4 linked regions of the Homo sapiens genome follow. The protein of the gene in region 1 interacts with the protein of each later gene in a pairwise test. Each region holds a gene or a part of one and is shown on either strand. Other genes may lie near its edges. The genes, in order: BCCIP, PDGFB, CCDC33 and CPAP.

Evidence for each region.
Region 2: the proteins of BCCIP (region 1) and PDGFB interact in binary tests that used the Homo sapiens proteins (3 or more experiments, as listed by UniProt).
Region 3: the proteins of BCCIP (region 1) and CCDC33 interact in a two-hybrid assay, tested with the Homo sapiens proteins (3 studies listed by BioGRID and IntAct).
Region 4: the proteins of BCCIP (region 1) and CPAP interact in binary tests that used the Homo sapiens proteins (3 or more experiments, as listed by UniProt).

The regions. Positions count from the first base shown.
Region 1 is NC_000010.11:125,831,829-125,837,051, forward strand, and holds the end of BCCIP (BRCA2 and CDKN1A-interacting protein), read left to right. Parts: intron 1-1,943; coding exon 1,944-2,118; intron 2,119-4,275; coding exon 4,276-4,446; 3' UTR 4,447-4,723; downstream 4,724-5,223. Other genes in the region: putative pre-mRNA-splicing factor ATP-dependent RNA helicase DHX32, read right to left, coding at 4,859-5,027. UniProt on the Homo sapiens protein: During interphase, required for microtubule organizing and anchoring activities. During mitosis, required for the organization and stabilization of the spindle pole.
Region 2 is NC_000022.11:39,234,140-39,242,856, reverse strand, and holds part of PDGFB (platelet-derived growth factor subunit B isoform 1 preproprotein), read left to right. Parts: intron 1-1,729; exon of another isoform or gene 1,730-1,844; intron 1,845-1,947; exon of another isoform or gene 1,948-1,984; coding exon of another isoform or gene 1,985-2,002; intron 2,003-6,982; coding exon 6,983-7,079; intron 7,080-8,717. UniProt on the Homo sapiens protein: Growth factor that plays an essential role in the regulation of embryonic development, cell proliferation, cell migration, survival and chemotaxis. Potent mitogen for cells of mesenchymal origin.
Region 3 is NC_000015.10:74,238,113-74,246,829, forward strand, and holds part of CCDC33 (coiled-coil domain-containing protein 33), read left to right. Parts: intron 1-5,872; coding exon 5,873-6,036; intron 6,037-8,717.
Region 4 is NC_000013.11:24,918,681-24,927,593, reverse strand, and holds the start of CPAP (centrosomal P4.1-associated protein), read left to right. Parts: upstream 1-4,732; 5' UTR 4,733-4,833; intron 4,834-8,913. UniProt on the Homo sapiens protein: Plays an important role in cell division and centrosome function by participating in centriole duplication. Inhibits microtubule nucleation from the centrosome. Involved in the regulation of slow processive growth of centriolar microtubules.

The sequences.
Region 1 (5,223 bases):
ATTTAAGTGATATATAAGTAGATAATTTCATATAGACTTTGCATCCCCATTTGATTGAAGTTTTTCACCTTCACAGATAGCTTTCTGCAACATGAATAAAATAATGAACAATTACAACAATAACAAAACTGGTAAAGTTCCCAAATTCTATTGGTATGTTTCATAACAAATGAAACCATAGTCCTGATACTGTGGCTAGCTTTTCAGGGTTTTTGTTATTCTATTTTTTAATCCAGAAGTTTTAAGTTTACAAAAATATTTCAAATGTAGCTGTGAAATCTAGCAAACTGAGTGTACTAAGAATTGTATTGTCTGTGCTTTGCAACAGAGGACAAAATATAGGCAGATTCTCTTATTTATTTCTATCTAATTTAAATTTTTTTTTTTTTTTGGTAGAGACAGGGTCTTGCTACATTGCCCAGGCTGGTCTTGAACTCCTAGGCTAAAGTGATCTTCCTGCCTCGGCCTCCCAGTGTTGGGATTACAGGTGTCAGTCACAGCACTTGACCTAGACAGGTTCTTTATAGAATATTCTTTCTCAGAGGTCATAGCCCTTGCGTTGTGGTTTTCCTTTAAATAGCTGTAGGAATGCAACTCTACTCTGGAAACCTTTACGTTTGCTGTTTTTTCCTAGGGATTCGATGCTTCTTATCTCCTGCTCCCTGCTCTCTCAGCTGTAGCTCAGATTGTGCTTCTGGTGCCTTAAGTGGTTTTTGTTTTTTTTTGGTTTTCTTTTTTTCTGATCAGCTGGAGCTCACATTTATTTGGTTTTATAGGAGGGTGATTTGCTTTCTCCTAGTCCTGTTAAAGCTGAAGTGAGCCAAGCGCAGTGGTGCACGCCTGTAGTCGCAGCTACTCAGGAGGCTGAGGCAGGGGGAATGCTTGAGGCCAGGAGTTCCAGGCTGCAATATACTATGATTGTGCCTGTGAATAGCCACTGCACGCCAGCCTGGGCAAAATTACAAGACCCTATCTTTTTTTTTTTCTTTTTTTTTTTTTGAAAAGGCCAGGTGTGGTGGCTGACACTTGTAATTCCAACACTTTGGGAGGCCGAAGCTGGCAGATCACTTGAGGCTAGGAGTTTGAGACCAGCCTGGCCAACATGGCGAAACCCCAATTCTACTAAAAATACACCCACAAAAAATTAGCCGGGTATGGTGGTGCAGACCTGTAATCCCAGCTACTCAGGAGGCTTAGGCACGAAAATCGTGTGAACCTGGCAGGCAGAGGTTGCAGTGAGCCGAGATTGTGCCATTGTACTCTACAGCCTGGGCAACAGAGTGAGATTTTGTCTCCAAACGAAAAAAAGAAAAAAAAAAAAAAGGAAAGCTGAAGAGGACGGTTGTTCTGAGTTTCTTCTTTTGTTCAAGGGCATCCAGATGCACAAGGCTATGTTTAATTTTCAGAAAGAAGAAACATTAAGGCTTTGTTGCGATTCCATTGCTAGAATTTAGGTTGTGTGTTTATGCAGTTTCTGCAGTATGTCAGAAATTAGTTCCAGACTCTAGCAATTAGAGACTGTGGTAGTAGTCACAGGCTGTAGTGACATTGGTTGTGGCTGTATACCTTTGTGTGTTTCAGTTAAATGTTCATTGCTTTAAAAAATTCAAAAATTCAGATTCGTATATATTTTTAACTTATGCACAGGCAGAGCAGTGATACATTGAGTGAATTTGAGACTCATCTGATCTGTTAGTTGCTATATATCCACAAATCAGCATAATCTGAGAGATATATCATAGTATTATAAAAAGTAATACATAATCTAAAATGCAACTGATTATGTAAATAAAAATCATTCCTGTAGACTAAGTGTTCAGATTGAATGCCTGCGTCACAGCAGAACCCACTGAAGATGCCTCACCGGGTTTTCTGTGCTCTGGTTTGTTGATGGATTTCACTTGACCCAGCAGGTAAACAAATGTTGTGTGTGTGCCTTGCAGGAAAGAACTGGCGGGGGCACACAGAACCAATAAGCCATGTGGGAAGTGCTACTTTTACCTTCTGATTAGTAAGACATTTGTGGAAGCAGGAAAAAACAATTCCAAAAAGAAACCTAGCAACAAAAAGAAAGCTGCGTTAATGTTTGCAAATGCAGAGGAAGAATTTTTCTATGAGGTAAGACTATCCTGCTTATTTGTTTAGATGTAAATAAGGATTTTCTTGAAAATGATTTATCAAGATTTATTGTTCTCCCACTTTAGGTCCAAGTCTTTCAAGTGTGGCTACTCTGTTTTTCTGTTTCCCCACAGGACCTAGCAGCTAACATAGTGCCAGGTGCATAGTAGGTACTCAGGAGGCTAGGCACCAGCCTCCTTGCCTGCACTGTGGTTATGAGCATGAGGAGGAGGAGGAGAAAAGTGATTAACCTGTTAAGAATGATTAGGCATTTATAATATGCTTCCTGTGAAATCTTTCATTCTAAAACCATGCGGAGAGGTAGACATTAGCCTGGGGTTTACAGATGTGGACTTTAAGGCATAGGGAAATGAGGGAAATTACCTGCGATCACACAGCTGGTCAGTGTGGAAGCTGGGGCACCCCTGCTGCTCTGTGTCCTTAGTCGTGGATGTCATCCTGCTGGTGGGATATCTCCAGCATTTTTTTCCTATAAAGGTAGCTTGTACTGTGATGGACAGCCATATACCAGAGAATATTCTTACCCTCTCTTCCTCTGAAAAATCTTGAAGTGGGCCAGGTGCGGTGGTGCACACCTGTAATCCCAGCACCTTGGGAAGCTGAGGCGGGCAGATCACCTGAGGCCAGAAATTCAAGACCAGCCTGGCCAACAGGGAGAAACCCCATCTCTACTAAAAATACAAAAAAAAAAAAATTAGCCGGGCATGGTGGCAGATGCCTGTAATCCCAGCTACTCGGAAGGCTAAGGCAGGAAAATTGCTTGAACCTGGGAGGCAGAGGCTGCAGTGAGCCGAGATCGCGCCACTGCACTCCAGCCTGAGCAACAAGGAAGAAACTCCGTCTCAAAAACAAACAAACAAACAAAAAACACAAAAACATCTTGAGCCAGGCACGGTGGCTCACGCCTGTAATCCCAGCACTTTGGGAGGTCAAGGCGGGTGGATCACGAGGTCAGGAGATCGAGACCATCCTGGCTAACATGGTGAAACCCCGTCTCTACTAAAAAATACAAAAAATTAGCCGGGCGTGGTGGCACGTGCCTGTAGTCCCAGCTACTCGGGAGGCTGAGGCAGGAGAATGGCATAAACCCGGGAGGCGGAGCTTGCAGTGAGCCGAGATTGCGCCACTGCACTCCAGCCTGGGCGACAGAGCGAGACTCTGTCTCAGAAAAAAAAAAATCTTGAAGTGTATCTCTGAGGGGAACATATTTTCCTGAATTGGATGATATCACATCACTTTGAAGACTTCTGCAGAAGACTAAAGCGCTACAAATTTAGCTGTGCCCTTCTTTTCCAGGAAGTAAATAGTAAACATAATTTTTAAAAAACATAGGCCGGGTGCGGTGGCTCATGCCTGTAATCCCAGCACTTTGGGAGGCCAAGGCGGGCGGATCACGAGGTCAGGAGATCAGACCATCCTGGCTAACACGATGAAACGCTGTCTTTACTAAAAATACAAAAAATTAGCCAGGCACAATGGTGGGCACCGGTAGTCCCAGCTACTTGGGAGGCTGAGGCAGGAGAATGGTGTGAACCCGGGAGGCAGAGCTTGCGGTGAGCCGAGATCACGCCACTGCACTCCAGCCTGGGTGACAGAGTGAGACTCTGTCTCAAAAAAAAAAAACAAACAAACAAAAAAAACAAAACCATATGCTTCAACACCTCAGGTTGACCATTTGGGGGGAGTGTGTATGGGTGTTTTAAGATGGCGGGGTATGCAGATTTACTCTGTCTTCACACAAAAGCCTGATGCTAAGGAAGCAGCTGAGAAAGTGAGAAAAGAGTGTTTGAAGACAAGTTCTTGTTAAATATCAAATTTTACAAGTCTTAATTTCATTATGTTTCACAAGATTATTTTGACAATTAAATGAAAATACCACTTAGCTGCTTGTTCACCTCTTAGAAATTGCACACCTCTATCCCTGTTCCTCATGTGGGTTTAAAATCTACTTGGTTTGTGTTTTATAACTTCTGCCTGAATGTCCCATTTGAACTTTTTCAATTCTGAGTTTTGCTTTTTTTTAGCTCTCATTCTTATTTAAGCATATGCCAAACGTAATATTCTTTGCCGTAGATCAAATGGGTTTTGTCTTTGGGTTGTCCCGATTTTTAATTCATGGTTACTTATTTGGTTTAGAAGGCAATTCTCAAGTTCAACTACTCAGTGCAGGAGGAGAGCGACACTTGTCTGGGAGGCAAATGGTCTTTTGATGACGTACCAATGACGCCCTTGCGAACTGTGATGTTAATTCCAGGCGACAAGATGAACGAAATCATGGATAAACTGAAAGAATATCTATCTGTCTAACCCATTTCCAATGGACAGTGATGGGCTTGTTTTTGTAAAATTACCAGAAAACTCAGTGGAGATTTACTGAAAAACTCAGACTTTATTCAGATTAAGTTCCTCTACAAAAAGTAGGGTTCTGTCCCATGTGTCTCTGACACATTTACAAAATACCAGTTTTTTAAAATTTTGGTCAAATTATGAGTGGTTGATTTAAAAACTTTTCCAAGAAGAAGAAAAGCATGGAGTAGTAATTTAAAGAACTCAATAAAAACTTCTATTTTTTATTTTAAAATAATATACACAGTGTTATTTTCTTCAAGACCGTCCTGTGGATGTGAAATCCGTCTTCGCGTCATGTATCTCCCATATCCAGCAGTTCAGCCATCCAGCTACCTTTGGGACCCTGCTGCACCTTGTGTTTGCTGGGGAGTCACTGGAGAGTGCATCTCTGTTCAGTTTCAGGGCACGTCTCACACATTTGCTGTTCCTTATTCATTGTTGACACAGGGGATAGGTGATCCACTACTTGCTGTAGAATGTCCTTACTTTCACTAGGAGGCAGATTACTGAAATAGTATTGTGGTACCAGCTGCATAAATCTGTTTATTTAAGACAAAAAGATGAGATTATGAGTGGGGAAGGTGGTGAGAGACACCAAACATTATGTCTGGGCACTTCCCATCCCTGGAGAATCTACCTGTAGAACCGGTATTTAATTTGAACTCAGATAGTATCTCAGTCCGACTTTGTAAAATAAATACTTTCTGTTTTTTATGCAGCCAATCCTGTTGCATT
Region 2 (8,717 bases), on another chromosome or scaffold:
TGACTGGGTACCGTCCCACCTCCGCCCGGCTGCGGCCGGGAGTCCGCACCTCGCCCGCACCTCGCCGGCTCCCGGGGAGGGTCGGCCCCTGCGGCCTCCAGCCAGGCGCAGGAAGGAGGCAGCGGCGGCGAAGGGGTTAAGGCGGAGGGCTCGGAGGCCGCGGCCCGGCCTTGGGCTGCCGCCAGCGCAGGTTGTTTTGACCACGGAGGAGCCGTCGCCGTCTCCTTTTGTTCTCGGGGCTCCTCGAGGGCCGCAGGCCGCCCGCCCGGGGGCCCCGCCCTTCCGCGGCCGCCCCCCGCGGCCCGCACCCGGGAGGGAGGACGCGGGGCTCGGCCGGGCCGCCTTCAGGCCCCTCCCGACGCCCCCTCTCCGCCTCTCCCGCAGCCCCCCGGGCCGCGGCCAGCTGTTGGGGAGGGGGTGGCCGGCCGGCCCCAGCTGCCGCCTCGCCTCGCCGTGGGACCTGGGGGCTGGGCCCGGTGCCAGGGCGTCCTGGGAACGGCGGCGCCCCGTGGCTGCTCTCCGCAGCCCACCCCGCCCGGGCCCCCGACTCGCTCACTCACCCCACGCATGCACACTCCTGGCCGGAGGCGATGCTGCGCTCCGGCGGGCGGGCGCGCAGAGCGACGGGCACGCACTACCGCGGCCAGGTCGCGCGCCCGCCTCTGCCACGCCCGTGCACACGCGGGACACACGCGCGCGCACCGCACACAAACGCACGCACGGCCCCTGCACGCGCGGCCTGAGCACACGTGCGCGCACACCCACGCACGTACACAGGCACGCACGGGCCCCCGTGCACCCAGCGCCTGGTGCTCGCCCCCGCGCAACAGGTGGGCCCTCCGTGGGCCCTGGCACCTCACCACCTCTGTAGCGGCCCCATTTCCTTCCTGGCGTCCTGTGAGGGAGGGAGAACCTCCCATCAGCACCACAGCACCTACTTTTTTTTTTGCCTCGTCAGCCCGACGCCCCTCAAACCTTACCCATCTGTGACTCCTTTTTTTCAACCACCTCCGCGTGGTGGAAAATGGTGGTGATGTGACTCTGAGGGGCACTGAGCTGTCCAGAGCGATTCCCCCTTCACATAAGCCTTCATTTGAACCTGCAAGACTGGAGGGACCTGGCGTGTGCAACCGCGGAGGGGGCTCCCACCCCTGGCTGTTGCATTCTCTTGGCTGATCCCAGCGTGCCCCGGGGAGGCCGCTGACAGCTGGATGTTTCCCCAGCCTCCCCTTACCATTTCCAGCTTCGTCCAGCACCTCCTCCTTCTTTCCCACAGCTCCACGGGCTCGTGTATCTGGGGTGGAGGCTGTGGCACAGAAACTGCCTTTCTCCTCACTTTAGTCACAGCATTCTTGAACACATGGCCACAGGCGCGATGTATGTGGCACTTTGCAGTTTATGAAGCACTTTGCTGCTAAGCCTGAGTGAGCCTCAGGCTGGCCCTGGGGGAGGGGACCTGCATGGGGATGGAACCACGCAGGGGTCAGTCCAGGAAGGAGCTGTAATGGCCAGTGCTGGGAGAGTCAGGGCAGGCCTGCTGGTGGAGGTGGCCTTGGAGCTGTCCACGTCCTGGTCGTGCTCGGACTAATCTTTCAGCAGACGGCAGGCAGCCGTGAGGCAGGGCTGGGTGGAGGGCCTGCCGAGGCCTCTGAGGTGCCATCTCCACCAGCTGAGCTGGCTTCCAGGAGGGCGAGTCCCACTGTCACGTGACGCGTCTGGCCTCAGCACACTTCTTCCGGGAAAGAGTGAAGGGCCCCACTGCCCTTTGCCATCCAGCTTCCTCTGGCTTTGCTAATGGCCCTAGGGGGCAGGAGACCAACTGCTGGAATCCCAGAGCCCTGGAGGTGTGCAAGGGCAGGTCAAACAGAATTTGGAGGATCTGGTGCAAGAGCCAGGAAGAGAGAGAGAGAGAGAGTGTGTGTGTGTGTGTGTGTGCGCATCTGAGAGAGAGAGAGAGAGAGACTGACTGAGCAGGAATGGTGAGATGTTTATCATGGGCCTCGTAAGTACCTCTCCACGTCTTGTCTTCCCCTCCCCACATTGAGGAGCCTCTTCTGTGACAACTCTTCCTATGTTCTGGTTTATTTCATTGTTTATTACCTGCTTTCTCTACTGGAGTGTCAACCCCATTAGAGAGCTTTCCTCCTGGTCCCCACTTTTAGAACAGTGCCCAGAGCCCTGTGGACAATCAGTAACTATTAGTGCAAAGAACAGTTAGTGCTGGGTTGGTGGGGAGGGCAGGACCTGGCCCCCTGTTGCTCCATGGCCCCACTGAGTCCTCGCTTTGCTCTGCTCCGAGGGCAGCCCCCCTTTTCAGCCCTCTGGTAGGCATCAGTCTTTCAAAGCCCCCCATCTTGAGAGAGAAGCATGTCTGTCTCTCCTCTGTCTTGGGACTTGGGCTACCAGGATTAGACAGGACAGAGGAGAAGAAACAGAAAGAAAATCAGACTGCAAAGGTTCTGTGTATCTTTAGCTGGGGCTAAGTTTCTGCCACCTAAAAAAAAAAAGAGAGAGAGAAGATTGGATTAGTGCAGAGTTCCCAAAGAATGGCAGAATCCCCTGGCCCCGTCCCCTGGCTGGGATGGGGATGGGCAGTGATTGCCGTGGTTGCCAGTATTATAAATGGCTGGACTGGTTCCTCTCTTCCTGCTTTAATTTTCCTCTGCTCCTGCAAGAGGTGGGGAGGCCAGGGTTCTGGGCCCACGTGAAGGAGCAGAGGCTGAGCGGGAGGGTCCCAAGAGCAATAAAGAAGGGGAATGCTAGGTGGGAAACACTGGTTCTAATGGCTTCTGTGGTTTGCCCCGAGAGGGCTTCTTCAAAGGGGTTGGTTGGCTTTGGCATTCGATCTAAATAAGGCCTGCGACTCTCAGGCAGGCAGGCTCTGGGAGGCCTCATCAGCTTCTTCCTCTGCCAGCCACAGACAACGCCCCTGGTTGCTTGGGCCTGTGTGTCCCTTGGTGGGAATGGCAGGCGGGCCGGGGAGTGTGTATCTGTGTGTGTGTGCTGGGCCCAGGAGGAGGGTGGGGTTCAAGCCCCTTTGATCTGCCAGCCTGGTTGGGAGCAGATCACTCACCTGGCCTCACGCTCGCTCGTGCCCTTCCTACCTGCTGCAGCTGGCGCTGGGGGCGGGGTCGGAGGAGGCTGTTTACCTTGGCTCCCACGGCTGGCTTTGCCCCAGCTGCCTCCTCGCCACGCCCTCACTCTGCCAGAAACCCCGGGCCTGAGATCTTGGGACAGCTTCTTCAGGGTGCCAGGCCTCCTTTCCCATCTCTGAAGTGAGCTGTCCACCTGGAGGCCTGCGGAACCTGTGCCCAGGAAAACCAGGCTCCGGGCGGCTCACCTTCCCATACCAAGAAGAGCCTGTGACTCCCAACAGGTGCTCATGCTCGTCATCCCCAGAGCATTGCATCCTGGAGCTGAGCACGTGCTGAGTGTCCCCCCACCCTCACCCACCCCCAGCCCCGGAAGGGCCTTGTAAGCCCACACGGCCCAGGCTCTGCCAGTGTGGAGGTAGGGTACCATTTCCTGTGGCCCAGCACAAGGGATAATGCAAAGTCACGCACTCTTTCATGGGCAGGCAGCTCTCCACCCACTCCTTGTCATCCTCAAAAATGTCCTGTGCTGCTGGCCCTGAGCACGTGTGCCACTCGCTGCTGCCCACAAAGGAGCCATCCGGAAAGAATTAATGATGATGACAGTGACAACTCATTAAGCTCCCATTATCTGCTGGCAGCTCTGCTCTGTGCAATTATGCCTCCCAGTAACCCCGGGCGAGGTATTATTAGCCCCATTTAAAAGATGCAGAAGCCGAGGTTTTAGATTGTGACAAGATTCCAAGAATCCAGGTTGCCCTGGCATCTGGAGCCCTTGCTCTTTCCTCCGCTACAGGGTTTCTCAGCCTCTGCACTCCTGATGTTTGGGAAGGCCGTCCTGTGCCCTGAAGGGTGGTGAGCGGCATCCCCGGCCTCCCCCAACTTAAGATGCAGTGCACACCCCAAGTTGTGGCCACCAGCGATGCCTTCATACATTGCCACTGTCCCCTGGGGGCCCACTGGGCCCTGGTTGAGAGCCTCTGACGTGGGACATGCTGCAGAGTAAAGAGCCAACACGAACCTTGTGTGATGCTGAGGGCCAGTGGCCTTAGAACACAGGAGAGGGAGGCTGAGACGCCCCATGGTGGGCTGGAACAGGTGGGCAGTCTGGAGCCTGGGAACGACCCAGCTCTGCCACTTGCTAATTGTCTGGACCTGTTGCTGCTTGTTTAATTTTTTCTAAGCTTCAGTGTTCTCATCTGGAGGATGGGGATACAAATACTGCCAGCCTCTTAGGATTGGTAGTTTATACGGTGTTTTTCTCAGCGTGTGGCTTGTAGCTGGCATTCATAGATGTTAGTTGTGGTATTATTACCAAATCCGGGGGCTTATGGGTAGTTCTGGGCATCTAGTGGCCACATTACCAAAAGCATCTTCAGGGACGGTCTCCCTGCTCAGATTAAAAGGGACTCTAGTTGCTCATTTGCCTAGGGTTGGGGAAGAATATCCCAGGTGGCCCTCCTGGTGGAGGAGGCAGAAGAATCATACTGGACAGAACCTGGAAAATGGTAGACTCCTTCATGCATTTGACCAGTATTTACCGAGGACCTACTATGTGCCTCTCTCTCCTCCTCAGACCCTATCCTGGGCTCTTTCACACTCAGCCTTGGAGGGGCATCTCCTATGTGTCGTGGGCCTGGATCTGGGGTGTCCACTCGGCCTGTTCAGGGGTCTGCCTCCTCTGCCGTGGCTGGCAGCTGCAGCCGGCTCTCCAGTGGGCAGGGAGATCTTGGCACAAGCACTAAATGCCATTTGCTACTAGGCCTTTGGGCCCCTCCCCTGGGGGGTTAATTGAATCTTTACTCCACAAACGCTTCTTGTTCTCCTTCTGCCAGTGATCCAGGGAGGCCTGGCTAGGCACCCGGCTTTGGCGTTTTCTCTGCCCCTTCTAACGCCTCCTGGCAGAATTAGAATTGAATCGAATGTTCTTCAAGCCCCTCGATTCACAGATGAGAGCCAGGACCATAGGGGCAGTGACCAGCCGAGGTCACACGGCAGTTGGTCCAAAGGCGTGGGATTCAGCTCTCTGGCCTGCCAGTTCTGGGTTTGACAGAACTCTCAGGGGAAGCGGCTTTCGCTGGTGTTCACTGGAGACCAAGCCCTCTGTTCTGTGGGTTGGGTACTTTGTCAACATTTGGAGAGCACCGGAGGCGTGGTCTCTCTTCTGAGGTGGAAAGAATGAACTTGCTTGAGGGCGGGAGGAGGCAGAGCCCGGAGGAGATGGGGCCGAAAGTGAGGGGCAGCGGGGCCCATACCCTCCTCTGTCTTGCACGTGCAGCCCCTGGCTGCCCGGATATTGAAGGAAAGACCCTAGTTCTCAGCCAAGCCCTGCCACCTTTTTTTCCTCAAGTTGCCCAGCAGCCCTTAGACATTGGGCGGAGTTGTAAGCTCCATGTTCAAACAAAGACATGGAGACTCAGGGGTTTCAGGGAATGATGTAGCTTTAAAAGTGGTCACCCCCACCCCCCGCCCTGAGTCTTCTGGCTCCTGGATCGATGTGGGTGGCCAGAGTTGGTCATGGATGAACCCCTGGAGGTGTTGCTAGACCTCATGATAAGCTGGAGGAAACAGAGCTTTCGGGGAGAGCCCCCTGAGGCTGGCCACAGGGCTGAGACGACCTCTTCTCCTCTCCCTCGCTCCCCCTCCGCCGTCAGGCAGCGAGAAAGCAGCATCCCTTTTGTGAAGGTAGCCTGCACCGACCCCCTCTGAGCCCCCCGACCTTCGGCTCCGGGAATGTGGAGCGAACCAAGAAGGGAAGTCCTCCCTTCTTAATCCAGGGAAACTGAGGCAGAAAATAGTTTAACCCAAGGTTCTATAGTAATGTGCCAAGCCTATTGATGCCCTCTCCAGGACTGTCTGTCCAGACCGTGCAGCCCGAGTGCCTGTGCCTGCACGTGTGTGTTTGCACACGTGGAAGTCCGGTTCCAGCCTTTGAACGTGCAGCGACATCTTAGGAATTTTCTTTGCTTCTCAGTGGCTGGTGGTCTGGATTGTGATTCTCAGTCTCCCATCTGCCCTCGCCTCTTTCTTGGGATCTCTGGCATCCGCCCCTTGGGTCTCCTGGGACTGTGGGGGACGTGGCTGTGACCTTCCTACGGGGCTGCTCTTGTGTCATTGTGGGACCTGCGGTTTCCCTGGAGGAAGCCCAGCTCCGAATGAGGCCTGTTGAAGTGTTATCAGGTTTCGAGTATGTTTGGCAACAGGCCAAAGGGGCTCTAAAAATAGGGTTTGGTTGGGCACAGGGCACGGGTAAGCTTTCAGGTTTCCCGGCCGTGTCCGAGGATTCCCTTTTCGCCTCTTTCGAGTGAGAGACTTCATAGATACCGCTAGGACCTGGGGCCTCCTGAGGCCATCGCACTCTGCACGCGTTTATTAAGCACCTCTTGTACCCAGGAGCCTGGGAGTACAGGCTCTGTCATCCCAAAGGCATGGGTTTGAATGCAGCTTTTGCCAATAATTGAGCCTCTCTTTGAACGTTTGTTTTCCCCTCTGTAAAATGGGGGTTAGATTGGCCATGGGAGATGCTGGCTGTCTTCAGCTGTCAGGTGTGTTGTGAGACTCAGGGAGAAATCAGATTTTGGTGCATTCCCAGAACATGTAGTTTGGTGGGGGAGACAGACATAGAGACAAGCAGGTCCAACTCAAAGCAAGCTGGGGTTCCTGTTGGGGGTTGAGGGTGCAGGGACTGAGCTGGGTCTCAGAGGCTTCGGCAGGTCCAGGCCCCGAGGCCTTTGTGCTCCTGATCATCAGGCCTGGATCCTGCCTGTCCGTCTCCCTGTGACCTTGGAGCTTTCCACAGGAGAAAGCGAGAAAGCGTGTGGTGGGGGAGACAGCCATGCTGGAAAGCCCCCACTCCCAGCTCACTCAGCCTTTTGGTGTCTGCCCGGCAGGGGGACCCCATTCCCGAGGAGCTTTATGAGATGCTGAGTGACCACTCGATCCGCTCCTTTGATGATCTCCAACGCCTGCTGCACGGAGACCCCGGAGGTAAATGGAATCCTCGCCCCGCGCTCCGGCCCTCCGAGGAGACTTTAAGAGATCTGGGAGGGGCAGGACAGGAGGCATCCCTCCTTCTTGACGTCTGGAGAACTAGAGGCCCATGGCAGCCCAGAGAGAGCGTGGCCACACCCATCCAGGGCAGGGCCGAGTCAGCAGGCGGGTTGGTACCTGGGACTTGGGGTGTGGCAGGAGAAGCACCCACGTGTGGCTCCGGCTTGGTGCCAAGGGTGGGGTGCCAGGAGGAGGGAGGGCGGGGAGAAGGTGCCCAGGGCATCTGCCGAGTATGTCTCCAGGTGTGGGCCCAGCCAGGGAGGGTGGCACTGGAGGAGTCATCTCCCCGCCCCTCTGGCTAGGGGCCCGGTCTGTGAGGTCCCCTGGGGACACCTGGCCTCGACCAGCAGGCAGCCCTGCCCGTGCCCCAGAGCTCACTCAGCGAATGGGCACGTGCTCGGTGGCACACACGTGGCGGGGCTGGCGGGCTGGATTGACAATGTATTTATAAACGCTGTCTTCAGAGCAAATTCCATTCTATTCTAACCTCTGGCCTGTTCCCTGGAGCCCTGGTCAGCAGCCCCCCTGCACCCCCAGGTCCCCTTCCCTCTGGGGTTCTGTCTCTTTGTCACTTTGTAATCCTTGCCCAGACGCTATCTACGGGGGAACAGCATTTCCTGCCTTTGTTTCCTCTCCCCGTTGGGCCCCTGGCTCCCTCTCAAAAGCATTCCCGGGCCCTTTCAATCCCGCCTGTGCTGGGGGGCGGTGAGGCAGGCAGGAGGGGGCCCCAGCTGGGCCCACCTATTGTTCGCCAGGGCCCCCACCCGATGTCTCCCACAACCCCCACCCTATGCCCGACTGGCCGCCCCTGGCCACACACAATGGGGCAACTTCCAAATTTAGCCTTTCTACCATTTCTTTCCAAGCCTTTACACCCCCACCCTCAGACGGCCCCTCCACACCCCTGGTGGGGGTCGGGATCTTGGAGATGAGGTTTCAATAGCAGGCCTGTTTCAAGGCAACCATGTGGCTATTTTTTCCTAATCAACTTAACCTTTCCACAAAGCGCATCTTTTCCCCATCTCCTCCCCACCAGGGACATTCCAGAGATGGCAGGGAGAAAGGAAAGGAGCCAGAGGGACAGATAGGCTCGTTGACGTAGGGGCTGTCAGGCTGGACGGAAGCGGACTAGTCATCAGACTCCCTGCAGTACCCGGGACGGACAGGCGGCAGGCGCCTTTGTCTTGGATGGGGCCAGTGGGTCGGTGCCAGAACTGGAGCCATGGGGTGCTGTGTGGAGGTGGCAGGAGCGTGTTCCCAATGCCCCTTAGTTTATTTGTGGCTCCTCACCCATGAGAGAGACAGAAGGGTCTGTCCACGCCTTAACATCCAGCTCAGAGGCCTCCCTCAGCCCTCACTTCCCAGCAGCCAACCTCTGGCCATGGGCTCTGGAAAGGACCGATGTCTCCAAGGAGGGCTGATGGGACTGAGATGGTGCCCAGGCTAGAAAAGGGAGCTGTCATTTGTGACCAGAGGAATCAACAGACGGCTGGGGGCAGAGGTGGGGCAACAGTTTAGAGAAGGGGAGGGAGACAGACACAGATACAGATACGGTGTGAGGGCCCCGGAGCTAGA
Region 3 (8,717 bases), on another chromosome or scaffold:
GTGAGATTCTGCCTCAAAAATAAAAGGACGTTGGCCAGGCCTGGTGTCTCACTCCTGTAATCCCAGCACTTTGGGAGGCCAAGGCAGAAGTTCGAGACCAGTCTGGCCAACATGGTGAAACCCCGTCTGTACTAAAAATACAAAAATTAACCAGGCGTGGTAGCGGGCACCTGTAATCCCAGCTACTCGGGAGGCTGAGACAGGAGAATTGCTTGAACCCAGGAGGCGGAGGTTGCAGTGAGCCGAGATAGCACCACAGCACTCCAGCCTGAGCAACAAAGAGCAAAACTCCATCTCAAAAAAAAAAAAAAAAAGGATGCTCATCATGTATATATAATACATATTTGTGTTTCTTCTTTTGTGAATCCCCAGTTCATGTTTTTTAAATTGGATAATGTTTATAGGTTTCAGTGCTCTTTGTATACTAGGGATATTAATCCTTTTTTAAATATGCAGCAAACATTTTCTCCTTTTTTTCTTTTCTTTGTATTGCAGGGCATTTTGGACCATTATAGAAGTTAGTATAGATTTTTAAAATGTAATCAAACCTATCCCTTTTTAATGATTTCTGACTTTTGTGTCATCTTTTGGAATGCTTCTCTGCTCCAAAGAACATAATTCCTCTTGCTGCCACCAATGGATACTCAGATTATGAGTTCAGGGGGGCATCCACTGTGGAGCAGAGAAGGGATCCACATCCAAGGAAGCATGGTTAGAGCACAGCAGAGACAGCAAGAGTGTGGGGTCAGACAGACCCAGCTTCCAGTTCCAGCCCTGGCCTCACTAGCTAAGCTGTGTGCTTTCATACAAGAGGTTTACTTTCTCTGAGTGTGCTTCCTCACCTGTGAAAGAGCTTTCCCCTGGCCGCCATAACTCTCAGGCAAGTTTAGATGTTGAAACTAGAAGGAACATGGGGGACCATTTTTAACTGAAAGTCCTTGTGAAACTGCTGGGAAATAGCCCCACTGCAGTCAAGTAACTTGCCCAAATGACAGATCCGGGCAGCCAGGCACCCTGCCTCCCAGCCCAGCCCCGCTCCAGCTAGTGTGACTTTTCAGACACACGGCCCTTCTAGAGGGCAGAACTGGGCTCAGCTCCTCAGGCCTCCCAGGCTGCTGGAGGATAGGGAGGAGTGGGTGGAAGAGTTTGTCTCCTTCCATCTCTCTCCCCACCAGAACCAAGTTAAGCACCCCCCAACCCACCCGCGGGAGCTGAATTCAAGGACCATTAACTCCCTGTTGTTCCTACCTCCTCCTCTCACCCTAGCCCTTCCCCCCAGCACATGGATCCAAAAATGCCCTAAGTGATGGGCAGTCCTAGTTCCCCTGCAACATCTGCTGGCTAATCCTGGCCTATTGAGGGCAAGGCTGCCTGTCTGTTTGGATAAGGGCACTGGAGTTAGCAGCTTCCAATCTTGCCAGGCCCAGTGGAGTAGCTGAGAGTGCTGAGCTTTGGAATCAGGCTTGCTTCGGTGCTCACAGCCCAGCCTCTCATCCACTGGCTGTGTGGCCTTGGGCAGGTAAACTGGCCAAACCCCTGCCTGGAAAAGCTGCCTGCTGATCTCTGCACCCTAGCAGTGTTGGGTGGGTTAAGTGAGAGGGAGCCTGAGAAGCTGATGGTGAGCATCCAGCTTTGCTCCCAGCCAAGAGGAGGCATGAATTCCCTCCCCAGGGCTCACCACACCCCTACAGATGAGTTTGTGCAAACTGAGAGTTACGGGGGGGGTACCCCATCACCCCCAGTTCCCTACCACTCATGTAACCCAGTATATGCATTTTCTGTTCCCTCATCAATCCTCTAGTGCAGGCCAGGGGTAACAGATGGGTCGAGGACATTGGTTCTGATGCAGGACATCTCTGAGGGAAGCCTGCAGATTCCCATCCAGACATGGGAATAAAAAAGGGATAGCAGGAGGTTAGCAGCCCTGGCCCACCATCCCCCTTCTGGCCTTACCCTTGGCCCCAAGCCTCCCTGGCCCTGGGCCCAGCCTGCCCAGCGGGCACATGCCTGCAAGCCTCACCAGGAGGCGCCAGCCTGGCAGTTGGCCTCATGCCCAGAACTGAAACACAATAGTTCTCGCCAAACTTCCTGCAAGCTTTATTCCCAGAAGGGAAGGCTGTCCCCGAGGGGAGGTGCAGGGGAGATAGAGGAGGAGCCGGTGTGACTCCTGGCCAGGTCTGCAGATGCCTAGTTGGGCTCTGGGGCTGCCAGGGAGCCAATGAGAGCCCCTGGACAATGGTCTTACTCCTGGGCCCTCCCTTTCATGGCCCTAGGGAGCTCATGAGAGGCCCTGTGCCCTCACAGCAAGGTGAATCCATCTAGGAACATGAATCACCCCTCCCAGCCTCACTGCAGGAACTTCAGGCACAGTAACCACTGGAAAGGCTGAATCACAAACTATTCCAGACATTCCCATTGGCCAGGTGGGAAAATCAAGGCTCAGGGAGGTGGTACAGAGAGGTAGGGCCAGAGCTGAGCTGAAACCTAGGTCTTTTTTTTGTTGTTGTTGTTGGAGTCTCACTCTATCACCCAGGCTGGAGTACCATCTTGGCTCACTGCAACCTCCGCCTCCTAGGTTCAAGCAATTCTTCTGCCTCAGCCTCCCGAATAGCTGGGATTACAGCCTCATGCCACCGCACCTGGCTGATTTTTGTATTTTTAGTAGAGATGGGGTTTCACCATGTTGGCCCGGCTGGTCTCGATCTCCCAGCCTCCAGTGATTTGCCCGCCTCGGCCTCCCAAAGTGCTGGGATTACAGGCGTGAGCCACCACACCCGGCCAAGTTGAAACCTAGGTCTTTTTGCCCTGAGGCTGCCAGCCTTACTCCTGTGCCACTAAACCAGGAGAGCAAGGCTGCTGGGGAGTGGGGGGGTCATGGTGGCCTGCATGAGGGTGGATATGGGAGGAAGCTGCCTACCCAGGAGGGCAGGGAACAGCACTCTGGCTGCTCCTCCTCCTTCACCTCCAGGCAGGGGCATCTTCCCCTCCCCTCATTCTCCCCTGACAGGAGCATGGGGGAGAGAAGGAGGGGCAACCCTCATCAACACCTCTGTAGATGGTGACAGGCCCTGCTGGGTCCTGGAAGAGGGTGGGGGTGGCCTCCTCAGTCAGAGGAAGGAGAGGGGGGCCTCTCTGCAGGACTGGCACTTCTGATCTGGGGGGCATGTATTCTCACCTCCTAATTAGCCATCTTGCTAGGCAAGGACCACAGCCTGCACCAGGCAAGCCAAGGGAAGTAGGGGAGCAAGGCACAGGGATGACAGTTCTGGAGTGACACCCAGGGTGGAGCAGAGGAAACAGCTAGGGCAGAGGCGGGGAGGCAGGAGGGAGCTTGGTAGGTGTGAGAAACAGCCAGGAGGCCAGTGTGGCTGGAGCGGAGTGACCCACAGGGCCCGTGGGACAAGATGAGGTCAGTTTTCTGGGCCAGCTCCTGGAGGGCCCCACGGGCCATTGCAAGGCTCTGAGAGAAGCAGCAAGCTACTTCAGGGTTCTGAGCAGAGGAGAGAGAGGGTCTGGGTCCAATCTGTAAAGGCTCACTCTGGCGATTGGATGGGGTGGACGGAGAGTCGGAGAGGAAACAGAACTCCATCAGAGGCGAGTCGGGACATACAGGTGTCTGGGACCTGAGTGCTGACCTGAGGATGCTGAGAAGGGTCAGAGTCCAGATATAGTTTGAAGGTGGAGCTGACAGGATCTGCTGAAGAACTGGATAAGGGATGTAGAGGAAGAGAGGGAAGAATCAGGAAGGACTCCAAGATGTGGGGCTTGAACAACTAGAACAATGGCATCGCCATTAACTCATTAACGAGTTGGGGCAGACAGCAGGAGGAGGGGTTTGAAGGGGAGTCCAGAGTTCGTTAGCTTTGAGAGGCCAGTAGACCCCCAAGGGGAGCTGTTGAGGGGGTGTGTGGCTCCGATTGGTGGGCACCCCACGCTACCGTGAGAAATGGATGAAATAACGTTCCTAAAACTCCTCGGGGCAGAGCAGAGCCTCAGGCACTGTGCCCTTTTCTTTCTGTCTGCCTGAGGCTTCCAGGAGCCAAGGCTCAAGGTAGGAGCAGAGCAGCTTCCAGATAGGTCGGTCCAAGTCCTCATCTCCCCACTGGGGAAACTGACTCTCAGAACATGGCTGGCTTTGGGGCCCAGCATGGTGAGAGGCAGAGCTGGTTTAAACCTACCTCTCCTGACACTCAGGGCTCCTCAGGAGCCGGCCATTCTGAGCCAAGGACCCAGCCTGCCGAGGCTGCCACCAAAACCAGAGCCCGTCCAGGGCCCAGGTCCTTGCTCCTGTCTGGGCCTCAATTTCCTCTCTATGTAATAGGACATTGTTCTCAACCCCACCCAACCAGGGCCTGCCCTGGAATGCAGGGTCTGACAGGCTGAGCTTTCCAGAGATGAGGAACAGCCTGCCAGTGGCCCCTCAGGGCCCTGCCTCCACCCTGAGGAGGTCCATTGCTCCTCTCCCAGAGCCAGGAGTGCCCCTCTATGGCCCCTCATATCAGCTGGAGGGACAAAGGGTAGGCAAGACCTCCTACCACGGGAGGCCTATCAAGGGTTAATCTGTGTCAGATTAACTGGAAGTGGTGAGTCAGCCAGCCGGCCAGTGGAGGACCAGGGCCAGGGAGGACAAGGACACCCCTGAGCCACAGCAGCCTCATGGCCACACCCCTCCCCACCCCACCGCGTTTATATGCCCAGCTCTGCCGTCTTCTCTGAGTCCCCACTGCCTCCCCAGTCAAACTGAGCCACCTCTGGGCCTTGGAAAGCTCTGCCCCTTCCCGCTTGCTGCCTTCGCTCCAGTGTTCTGCTCCTGGCCTGTCCTCCCTGACTCCACTCCTGCACCTTCTCCCAACCCTTTAAGGCCTCCTCCTCCCTGCTGTCTTCCCTGACCGCCTCAGCCGGCCAGGGCTTTGTCTTCTCTCAGCAGCTCTCGTTAAGATGGTCCTTTGGGCCATGAATCCACAAGTTACTAAGCTGCTGAGTCCCTGCTTGGGGCAACTGGTGTAGGAAGCCCCCTGCATGGGCAGGCACCTCTTCCTCCCTAGTCCGCAAGTTTCCTGGGTAGAAGACAGGTGGGGCATCTGGGACAGACACATGCATTCACCTCCACGTAATGCACTGAATGCCCCCATGAACGTGGAGAAGCTTTGTCAGCTGTAAAGTGCTGTGCACAGGAGGGACCTGAGGTGATGGGTGAGCTGAGGTGAGGTTACAAGATAGACTGAAGAAGGTGGCCCATTGTTAGGACTGCAAAAGCAGGTGGGATTTAGGAATTACAGACGAGGACACCTGCGAAAGCTAAGGCTTAGAAGTGGGACCAGACTTGAAAGGTGAGGTGGCCTGTCTCATCCTGCAGGAAGGGTAGGATCCAGGACTAGAGGAGAGGCACTGAGAGAGACGTGGGATGGGGACAGAAGTAGGGAGAAAATGGGGCCAAGGCGACTGCCTTGCAGAGTGGGCGGAAGGGTGACAGAGGGAGGCAGGCACTTGACGGAAGCTGTGAGTGGCTAGTGCTAGAGGGTGGCAGTGAAGGGAGGTGCCGCAGCAGAGGAGGCCACTCAGGGCCAGGTGCAGTAACTCATGCCTATAATCCCAGCACTCTGGGAGGCCGAGGCAGGCAGATCACCTGAGGTCAGGAGTTTGAGACCATGGGGAAATCCCGTCTCTACTAAAAATACAAAAATTAGTTGGATGTGGTGGCACATGCCTGTAATCCCAGCTACTGTGGAGGCTGAGGCAGGAGAATTGCTTGAACCTGGGAGGTAGAGGCTGCAGTGAGCCAAGATGGCACCACTGCACTCCAGCCTGGGCAACAGAGCAAGACTCTGTCTCAAAAAAAAAAAAAAACACTCAGCCCTGGCTCTCCCCACAGAACACTGAAGACCCAGAGGAGCCCCTGATCGCCTCCCAGAGCACGGAACCTGAGATCGGTCACCTGTCTCCCTCTAAGAAGGAGACCATCATGGTCACCCTCCATGGGGCTACCAACCTGCCTGCCTGCAAGGATGGCTCCGAGCCGTGGCCCTATGTGGTGGTGTAAGTAGCTGCGTGAGAGTGGGGGCAGGGGATGGGTTGGGCTGTGAGCAGAAACCAGGGGACAGCTATTTGGAATACTAGCACCCAAAGGCCCAGGACTGGGACTGTCATACCCAGAGGGGAGGAGCTGCTGTGGGCACTACCTGGCATCTCCGCTGCTGCATGGGAAGCTGCTCACCAGGGCTGGGGAAGACAGGGTGCCAACGGATCCAGAGAGTCACCCCTCCCCACCCCACACCAGTGGGGCAGGGATTGGTCACAGCTCAGCTCCAGTGGGGCAGGTTCCTTGTATGCAAAAGTCTGGGCTGGGCTCATGGGCATGATGGTCAGATTGGGGAAGGGGAAGATTTGGGACCTGCCTCTCCTGACTTCTGGGTGCCCCACCCCACCATACCCAGCCCTGGGGTAGGGTCCTCATAACCACCCTCCCCTCCTCCCCTCCTTCTCCAGTCACTTCTATTATGGGGACTCCCCTAGTTCTGGGCCTTTAATGCACCCCACACACCCCCTCCAGCCAGCTGCTGTCAGGGTACACACTTCCCCAGCCTGGCACCAAGGCCTGCCACGCCACGTCTATGCCCACCTCACGGGTCTCACTTCTTCCAGAAAGGCGCCAAGGGGCAACACAATCTCCATCCAGCCAACCTTCGCTGGGGACACTGAATATTTGCTCAATCTTTATTATAAAGCACCCTCCAAGGAGCATGTCACCCCTAGACCTTCTATAGACAGACGGCGGGAGCCTTGGTGGCCTCCCACCAAGCCACCCTATACTTCCCCTCCCCCACCAATACTGGCACCATTCAGTTCCTGCCAAGAGTCTGTTGCCCACATTTCCTTTTGGGGAGTGCCTGCCCCAGCCCACTCACCAATGCCTGCTGAAATCCTGCCTTCAAAGCCTCCTCCTCCAGGCAGCCACCAGAGTTGAGCTCTCCCTCTTCTGGAGCTCCACAGCAGTGGTGACCCTGGTCTGAAGCACTTTATATCAACATGGTTTATGCACTCCTCTGGGGCTCCCTGAGGACGGATCTCCTCCTCCATTTCCCTCAACAATGCATCCAACATAGGCCTGAGCCCAAACTTAGGAGCCAAGGAGTGACTGAGGCCAACACCTGGTTACTATGATAAGTCCCTGCCCCCCCAGGGCCCCCACTGTGAAAGGGGGGTAGAAGCTGTGCCGAGAGCAACAGGTGAAACACTTGCCTTAAAAGCCCCATTTGTGCCAGCCCAGCTCCTCGGCCATCCCTCCCCCAACTCCATTTCCGTGGTGAGGGAAGCACAGGTGGTGGGAGCAGGCTTGGCAGGGAGGCTGGTTTCTAGCGGGGAGCTCGCCTTCTCCGCTCAGCTATTTCCATAAACCAATTATCGCCGATCATCTCGGGAGATTGAGGCCCTGACTGTCACCAATCCGGCCTGGGCGGCGGGGCGGGGAGCTGGGTGGCTGTGTGGCTCCTAGGCAGGCACCGCGACCCGCGCCATCACCCGGTTGCCATGGGAACGCGCGGCAGGAGCCTAGGCGACACGAGCCTGGGTGGGGGTTCGGAGAGCCGGGCACACCCCGAGTCCTCCTGCACCCTCCCTGTGGCTGCGGCACGTGGGGCGGGAGGGTGGGGACAGAGAACGCGGGGAGGGGGGAGGGGAAAGCACTTCGCTGCACCCTTCTCCAGCTGGGAGCAGCGCCCGGGCCAGGCTGCAGCCTGCGTCCCAGGGCTCCAGACAGGCGAAGCTGCCACCAGCTCGAGGTGGTGCTAATGAGATGCAAATGATGGGAGAAGGAAGGGCTTCTGAGAATGTGAAGGCCGAGCTGTCAGGACCTGAAGGGGGCTTTCAGTGCTCACCCCCAGCCCCAGGCAGAAACCCCAGAGGGAGGATCCAGACCCTCAGAGGCCATAGAACCTGGAAAGAATTTATATCCCTGCACATCTGATTACAAATAAACAAGTAACAAAGCACACAATAGGCATAAGAAAGTTCATGAAAGTTTTCGTTTTGTTCATGATGAATATTTCAATGCTTTTTAAAAATATGTATTTGTGAAGACTTCAATGTAAGACCTGCAACTGTAACACCCCTAGAAGAAAACACAGGGGAAAGGCTCCTTTACATTGGTCTTGGCAATTAATCTTCGGATATGACACCGGAAGTACAGGCAACAGAATCAAAAATAAGTGAGACTGCATCAAACTGAAAAGCTTCTGCGCAGCAAAGGGAATAATCCACAAAACAAAAAGGCAGCCTATGGTATGGGAGAAAATATTTGCAAAACATGTATCGGATAAGGAGTTAATATCCAAAATATATGAGTAACTCATACAACTCAATAGCAAAAAGACAAGTAACCCAATTTAAAAAATGAGAAAAAGACCCGAATAGACATTTTTCCAACAAAGAAATACAAATGGCCAACAGGCACATGAAAAGGTGCACATCGCTAATCATCAGGGAAGTGCAAATCAAAGCCACAAGGAGATAGCACCTCACACCTGTTAGGATGGCTGTTCTCAAAAACACAAGAGATAAGTGTTGGTGCGGGTGTGGAGAAAAGAGAACGCTTGTACACTGTTGGTGGGAATACGCAGTAAAATGGTGCAGCCATTATGGAGCACAGCACGGAGGTTCCTCAAGAAATTGAAAATAAAACTACCATATGATCCCGCAATCTCACTACTGGGTATATATCC
Region 4 (8,913 bases), on another chromosome or scaffold:
TGTCCTGTTTTGCAAGGAGAATAGTATGAAAGCAGTCTTTTAAGTCAATAATGACTCAAAACTCGAGGAATCACTGCGGGGGGAAGGGAGCCCCTGTGGAAGGGGCCCCATAGGTTGCAAATTAGCATTGATAGCCTGTAAGTCATGCAGAACTCTCCATTTACCAGACTTTATGGGAATGACAAAAAATGGGTGAATTCCAAGGGCTGTCTGCTGGTTCTATATGGCTGGCTTTTAATTGTTCCTCAATTAATTCATGGGTTTGTTGTAATTTCTCTCCCTTTAAAGGTCACCGTTCTACCCAAATTGGATCTTGAGACAGCCATGTCAGGGGTAGGGGAGGACTTACAACAGTGGCCACTATTAGAAAGGGCTCTGCATAGTGACCCCCCCATTGGGCTAATAAGGTCCCATTCCCAAAGATGAACAGGGATGGGCATGATTAGAGGTTGTATAGTTGCTTTTCTTCCCTCCAAATCGTGACTTTAGAGGGCGTGCACTCTGCTTGGCTGTGTGCACTTCTCCAGTGCCGACAATTTTCTGTTTCTGAGTGACCCATATGTTTTACCCAGCCAATTGATTCTGGTTGGTTTGTCATTCACACAACTCATCATATTCTGCCATCCAGAGGAGGTATTGACTGGCCTCTAAAGTTGTTTGAGCTAGCACTGACCTGTCCCATGGGATCATAAGGAAGTTGTCTGCTATGGCCTCAATTAATCCTTTTGTAGATGGGCTAGCAGCTCTGTTTTCTCTAATGCTTTTTCTTATCTCTTTATAGGTGTTGAAAGTGATGGGCTCATATACCTGATTGCCGTGTTGATCTTGCATCACAGGGCAGGCCAAGAGCTCCCCTTCTAATGCCACTTGCCTAAGACAGGGTCCCGTAACTGTAGTGTATCCCTTGTCTTTTTTTCCAATTTATTGGAGGAGGGGGCTCAGGGAAACTCTGTCTCCTCTGTGGCACCTTTACCTAGTAACAGTGGGGCTGAGGGAGGAGGAGGCGGTCAGGTAGGTGGATGGTTCCTCTTCCCTTTCCTTTTTAGGCTCTTTTGTGTAGAGTGGGGCCAAAGCAGCCCTGATTAAGGCCCATAACGTTAAAGATGTTACTGGGACCCGTTTCCCTTGTGCATGATGTTATTTAAGATTTCCCCTCACTTGCTCCCAGAGTTCTTGGTCTAACGTGCCTTCTTCTGGGAACCATGGGTTATTGAAAACAACAGTTTGCATTAGGCCCCTTAACTGAGCCTCCGAGACCCAGGCTCTGCTAGCTTTAAGCAGCTGTTTCAATACTTACATATAGTGTTGCTGTTGAGCTGATAACTGTTGTCCCATGATGAAACCCTAGGTTGAAAATTCCCTCAAACTTGGAAATCCTGAGTGGGCACCAATTACTTACTTCCCGCACAGTCTCTTCACCTCATTTTTGGGGGTTCCATCGTGATCTGTTGCAGCATTCCTCACACAGGGCACCAGTTGCTGGGTCTGTCCCACAGACCCTGGCTGGACGATGGATGAAACGAGTACTCAGACGCAGATATGCAGTGTAAGAGCAGCTAGGGGACTGCTTGGCACTAGCGGCCAAAGAGTGAGCAGGCAAACAGCTGGAGCTGCTTGCTTTTATTCAGTATAGACATAATGCTGAAAGCCTGGAGCAAAAACAATCTGTGGGTAATTAACATTATTGTTCCCCTTTCAGGGAACGGGTCACGCATGTGGATGATCAAAGGTCAGCTCCTGGTCAATGTAAGTAAACAAGCCTATTTACGATAAATTCCCCTATGCTTCCTGGTACCTACTCCTTGCCCTCTGCCTCAGGGTCAGAAAACAGCTGCCTTCAGCTTATTCTCCCTGGAGGCTATGCAGAGGCTTCCGACTTTTCAGAAGGTCTGCTCCTTTCCCTATAGTTTCTCCCACCACTCTGACTGATCTATAGGAATCATTCCTTGGCCAGGCTAGCCCTGATGTCCTCCCCCACTTTTTTTCTTTTTAAGAGTTGGCGGTTTCACTCTGTTGCCCTGGCTGTAGTCTCGTGGTGTGATCATAACCTTCAACTCCTGGGCTGAAGTGATCCTCCTGCCTCAGCCTCCCAAGTATGTAGGGCTACAGGTGCACACCATCATACCTGGCTAACGTTCAAACGTCTAGGCTCAAATTATCCGCTTCAGTCTCCCAAAGTGCTGGGATTACAGGTGTGAGCCACTGCACCTGACATGTCCTCTCTGGATAGAGTGGACACTTGCTACCATCAGACCAGCAATGAAAAGCTGTCAACTCTTTGTCACTCAGATCAACTTTGATTAAAAGAATTATTACCAGCCAAGCACAGTGGCTCATGCCTGTAATTCCAGCACTTTCAGAGGCCAAGGTGAGAGGACTGCTTGAGCCTACGAGTTAGAGACCAGCCTGGGCAACAGAGTGAGACCCCTGTCTCCAAAAAAATAAATAATGAAAAAGAATTATTTCCAAATAATTTGGGAATACAATAAGTATTATTCTGTGTCTGGCACAGCATTTGACAAGACCCACAGAGCTAGGCTTTGGTAGACAAGAGTTCACCAACAGTTAAATTCTTTATAAAGATGAAAACACCTCCTGTTCATTGACTTTTTACTATGTGGAGGTTTTTTGCTACTTTTTCATACATAGTCTTTCTTTTAATGTAATCTTCTTGACAGTCCTATGAAGGTCTCATTATTATCCACCCCTGTTTTGCAGATGAGAAGACTGGTTTCAGAAAAGTTGAGTGCTGAAGACTACAAAGCTGTTTGTAAGTTATCAAGCTAGGATTTGATCCCAGGTCTGCCTGATAAATCCTGGACTCTTAACCATGACATAGGAGTGCCCTCTTGACTCCTATGATGGCATAAAGAATTGTATCAGAACGGGTAATCTGGCATTAAAACCCCTGTGCCACAACCGTTAGTCTAATTTTTCTCTACAGCACCATCTGAAGATGCAACAAGGATAGGAACCACTGATAAGGTAGAACATTTTATTGTCTGGCAGAGTAGAAGATGGAAGTTCCTCCCCACTAGCCTTTCCACCTTGTAATGGATTTGAACCCTTGAAGCTTAGTGGGCAGTTTTGAGAATTACATGGGCTACAGGTGAAAACTTACACATTATAACCTTAATTTAACAGCCAGTTAAGACTTGAGTGTGGTAAAAGATTCATTTATTTATTCAATCAACAAACAATGTGGCACTACATACTATATTAAAATAAAAACATACGAATAAAATATAGGCACAAAAATAGAGGATATTGCGACTATCCTTAAAGATACACATTTTAGGAAGAATGATGAGACTTTTGGGCATGCTTTCAAGCCAAAGGGCTATCATAAATGAAAAGGAAGATTGTTTGGGTCCTTGTCTGGCATCTTAAGTAGCTGTGTGATCTCGGAAGTCTCGGGCTTTAGCTTCCTCACCCACAGTGAAAATTAAAAAGAAAAATTGGGCCGGGCGCGGTGGCTCACGCCTGTAATTCCAGCACTTTGGGAGGCCGAGGCGGGCGGATCACGAGGTCAGAAGATCAAGACCATCCTGGCTAACACGGTGAAACCCCTTCTCTACTAAAAATAAAAATAAAAAAATTAGCCAGGCGTGGTGGCGGGCGCCTGTAATCCCAGCTACTCGGGAGGCTGAGGCAGGAGAATGGCGTGAACCCGGCAGGCAGAGCTTGCAGTGAGCGGAGATCGCGCCATTGTACTCCAGCCTGGGCAACAGAGCGAGACTCCATCTCAAAAAATAAAAATTAAAAAAAGAAAAGAAAAATTGAAAAAAGAAGCAAAACCGAAATCTTGATTTAGAGAAGTAGACTCTTTTTGAAGTAGAAAGCAAAACAAATTTTGGAGGACCAAATTTCTGTGAAATAGTTTTGTCTTTAGCAGTCGTTTGTTTCAGTTATAACGGTTATAAATGGCACTTCATTTGATTTCTTTAAACATTTTACTTGGCCTGCTGTTTAATCAGACATGGAAGCCAGGTATGTAGTACTGTGGTAACTCACGGTGCTGTAACTTCCTAGATTAAAGGGCCGTGGCAGTTAAAACGAAACAAAACAAAAAAATTTCTTGAATTCTGCACTGTCAGTATTCAAACTAGTTTCAGAATCTAATGGACACACTCTGCCAAACCACCGATTAGCCATTTGAGGAGAGATGAAAGATGCCTATTTTTGGAGTGAATTCTCATAGGGTTATTTTCGTCTTACGAAATGGTGTAGCGGACTGCCCTTTTTCTCCTTTACTAAGTCACCTCAGCCAAAGCGGAAAACAAAGAAAAAAACCAAACCAAACCAAAAAAACGACAAAATAGACCGTACGCAAATAGAAAAAAAAAAAACAAAACCCAAAACACCTCCTTTAAGCGTCGGTTGGGCTCTATGTTAGCTTTGACTCTCCGTGCTCCCTGCTTTGCTGGGAACACGGAGATCCATCGCTCCGTTAGGCGTTCCCTTTAGTTTTCTAAGTGTGGGAGCCTGGGGCGACGTCCACCACGGAAGGTCTCTCCCGGAAACGGTTTTCCGCCCCGCCACGCCGCCCGCCTACGTCGACCACTGGCCCGCTGCTGGTCGGAAGGCGGCGCGCAGTCCATCCCCCGCCGGGCAACGCCCGTCGCTGTGGCGTCACTGGGAGTTGTAGTTTCACTGGGCTCAGCGGTGCCTGCGCTTTAGCGCAGACGCGCGGGTGAGATCCTCACTTCCCACAGGACCTCGGGACGGGGGCGGGGCTCCGACAGAGGCGGCGATTGTGGCGGCCCATTTGTAAATGCTGCGGAGATTGAGGTGTCGGTTCGTGCTGCTGAGCTGCCCAGGCTTCACGGAGCGGTAATTTGTGGGCGAAAAGAGCGGAGGAGCTCTTTGTCCGCCGCCCTGCGCCGGAGATGGACGGCGGTGGGCGGGCAGGACTCTGCTCGGACCTCGGGGTTGGCTCGGCGGGGCGAGGAGGGAGCGGGGCGCCGGGACGCGCTCAGGCCCACGGGCGCGCTGAGGCCCACGGCAGTTCAGTGGCTTCGTTCATTCGCGCTGCTTTGTTCTTCGCAGAGCTGGGGAAGCCGGCCTCTCTGGGGTGTCTGTCTCTCTGACCTGGCTGTGGCGGAACTTGAGTTCCTGTGGGCAGCGCGGCAGCCGCAGTCCGCTGGAGCAGGGTGGTGAAGTAGCGTTGCTGGCTGTCCTAAGGGCCGGTCTTGCCCCAGCTTTGTCAAGGGCTTCTCTCTTGAAGCTTCGTGTGGATTCATGGCTTTCAAGAACGTGTTGTATTTTAGGGGACTGCTAAATCACTTCCCAGACCAACTAGTTACTTCTCACGGTCTAAGAGTGGCTTTGAATTTGCTGTTTGTATCCACTCTCCTCCCTCACCGTGCAGAGAATTTATCTTTTTTTCAATACTGCTTTAAAGAATGTTTACATAGCACTTTCTGGAGATTTCAAGGCTGTCAGTTTGTTACATTTTTTAAAAGTTTTATTGAGGTATAATTGCTATACAATAAAAATGGCACATGTTTAAATGCATTCCATTTGATGAGTTTGACATACACGTGCACCCGTGTCCTTCAGATTTTGATATCTGTAAAGTCTGAGTCCACATACTAATCCTATCTCGGCATATATATTATCAATGCTCCCTTTACCAAGACCTCAGTATCAATAATAAGTAGCAGGTTCTGGTGACGCTTTTTTTATACTTCATGCTGACATTAAATATATTTTTAGAATCGCGGTCATGAAATTGAAGGTATAGAAGGTGTGTTTGGTGGGGAGTTGGAGGAGGAGATGCAAAAGTCTGGCTGCTGCATCCCAAGACTGCTTGCACTTGTCAGTCTAGTAGGGAATTTTTCTAGTTTTCCATATTATGAAATGACCTTGTAGTTTGTCTCCCTTCTGAATTTGGATTTCGAAAGATTTTCTGCTAAGGTCATTGAAATTAAGCAAAGTTACGTGGTTGATTTTGAAAAAAAAAAAGTCATTACTTTTTTAGATTGGTTTCCTACTGAAAAACAATTTGCTTAGAAAAAGTTTTTACAAATTATTCAGGAATAACAGATATCCAGTAAAGTGCGCTAATCTTAAGTGTACAGCCTAAGTGTATCCACCCCCTGTATTAACCTTCCCAGTTGTTGAAGTCAAAAATTTGGAGATGAATCTCTTAAGTTTAACGTTTTATTTGGGAAGAAAGAATGGCGGTTCCAGGCGTACAGACCAGGTGGTCTTCAGTATGTCCAAAGAACAAAGAGAAAGCTGGAGGTTTTATAAAAAAGAGAATTGTTATATCTGTCGCTCTTCGAGAAAGTTCATTGGTTCTCCTAAGGTTCTGGGGAGGCAGCAGGTCCTACCGAGTGGGCCATGGTGGAGGGCAAAATTAGTCCTACAATTGCAGCAAGTTACCTCAGCATCTATAGATCAAATTGGTCTCGGGTTACAACCGGCAGTTTCAGCATACTGACTTATAGAGAATTCCATTCTTGGAGCAAAGTTGTGTGTCCTGAGTGCCTTTCCCTCTTGACTTCTTGATTGTTTAGTTGGCTATAAGAATGACTCAATTTGTATGATCAACTTTCACACAGACAGGACAACTCCCATTTTCCTGGATAACGACCAATATGCCATTTATAACTATGGGTTTATTTTGCCTGTTCTTCAGCTTCATATACATGGAAACATGGGCCAGGTGCGGTGGCTCATGCCTGTAATCCCAGCATTTTGGGAGGCTAAGCCAGGTGGATCACTTGAGGTCAGGAGTTTGAGAACAACCTGACTAACATAGTGAAACCCCGTCTCTACTAAAAATACAAAAAAAAAAAAAAGCCAGGTATGGTGGTGCATGCTTGTAGTCCCAGCTACTCTGGAGGCTGAGGTGGGTGAATCGCTTGAACCCGGGAGGCTGAGGTTGCAGTGAGCCAAGATCACACCACTGCACTCTAGCCTGGGCAACAGAGTGAGACTCCATCTCAAAAAAAAAAAAAAAAAAAGGAATCATATTTGTCTGATGTTCACACATCATTATTTATTTTTGTTACTGCCTGTGGCAGCAATTTTTGTTTTTTTAAATGCCTGAATAGCTGTGGTTCTCAAAGTGTGATACAGTGAGAAAATGTACATCACATTGGCATTTTTGTTTTTGGTTATTAAATGGTTGGCAGGCAATCATCTTGTTCCAAGAAAATCTTCAGTTGCAATTAATGGTACAGTAAGCCTTTATACAACTCTTCTACAACTCAACCAGGGAGCGATGGCAAAAACACAGTATCATTATGTTCACTGTCTTCTATGTCTTTTAACAGTTCTATAAACTGGCAGTTGATAGCATTTGTACATACTGAACAATTGTAACAACTATATTCATGATACTATTCGTGGATTATGCTTCAGAAAACCAAACACAAGAATTTTCAATGTGTATTATACAGGGGAATGAATCAGCGAGGGAAACAGCAGTCTCTTGTTGTAAAATCCCATTAAATTCAGATTTTTTGCCTTATAGAATGACACCATCTGTCATGATAGAAACTGATTTTTAGGCTGGGCGCAGTGACTCACACCTGTAATACCAGCACTTTGGGAGGCCGAAGCAGGAGGATGGCTTGAGCCTAGGAGTTCAAGATCAGCCTGGGCAACATAGGGACACCCTGTTTCTACAAAAAAATTAAAAAATAAAAAATAAGCTGGGCATGGTGACACATACCTGTAGGCCCAGCTACTCTGGAGGCTGAGATGGGAGGATCACCTAAGCACTGGAGGTTGAAGCTGCCGTGAGCCGTGATTGTGCCAATGCACTTCAGCCTGGGTGACATTGTGAGACCCTGTCTCAGAAAAAAAGAAAAAAAGTAATGTTTTCATATCTAGCTAAAATTCTTCTGTCAGACATAAAATACTGGGCGCAGGGGCTCACGCCTGTAATCCCAGCACTTTGGGAAGCCAAGGTGGGAGAATGGCTTGAGCCCAGGAGTTTGAGACCAGCATGGGCAACACAGGGGGACCACTCTTTACAAAAAATTAAAAGATGAGCTGGGTGTTGTGGTATATGCCTATGGTCCTGGCTACTCCGGAGGCTTGAGGTGGGAGGATCACTGGGGCCTGGGTGGTAGAGGCTCCACTGAGCCGTGATCATGCCACTGCACTCCAGCCTGGGTGACAGTGAGACCCTGTCTCAAGGAAAAAAAAAAAGATTAAAAAATATCCATGTCACAGGTTCAGTATCAGGCTTTGAATTGATATCATCTCTTTGTAAATTTAGATAATCTGTGAGATAAAACACACCTAAATTGGTGATTGGTCAGTCTCTCATTGCATTACTCAGATAAAGCTAAAGACAAGTGCTTGTAATTTTTTATGGCTTTGAACCTGGATGGTAATAGAAGGGTCTATGGACAATTGTTTGGTCACTTCGTTGAAAATTTTTCACTTTTTAGAAAATATCTTTAACCTTTTAATTAAAATATCTTTTTAAATCTCACAGTGTTCTAACAAAATTTCCTCAACTCAGATAACCTATTTACCTCCTCTTCATCTGAAAATAATTTTCTTTTTTCTTTTCATTTCTATCTCTTTCTCTCCCCTCACCCTCCTTCTTTCCAGGCTTTTTTATAACTGGCCAAAGTTAAAAGGTCAGATTCTGTTCAAAATCATAAAACTTTTTTTTTGTTGGCTATTTAGTTCTGACACAGGTGACTAATTACAGTTGACTCTCGAACAACATGAGTTTCAACTTTGTGGGTTCGCTTATGCTTGGATTTTCTTCCACTTCTGTCACCCTCGAGACAGCAAAACCAACCCTTTCTCTTCCTAAGCCTAGTCCAATGTGAGGACTAGTGACACAAAGACCTTTACTATCCATTAAGTGGAAGTGGATCATCATAAAGGTCTCCCTGCATATCTTTCATATGTTTATGTTTTTTAGACACAAAACAT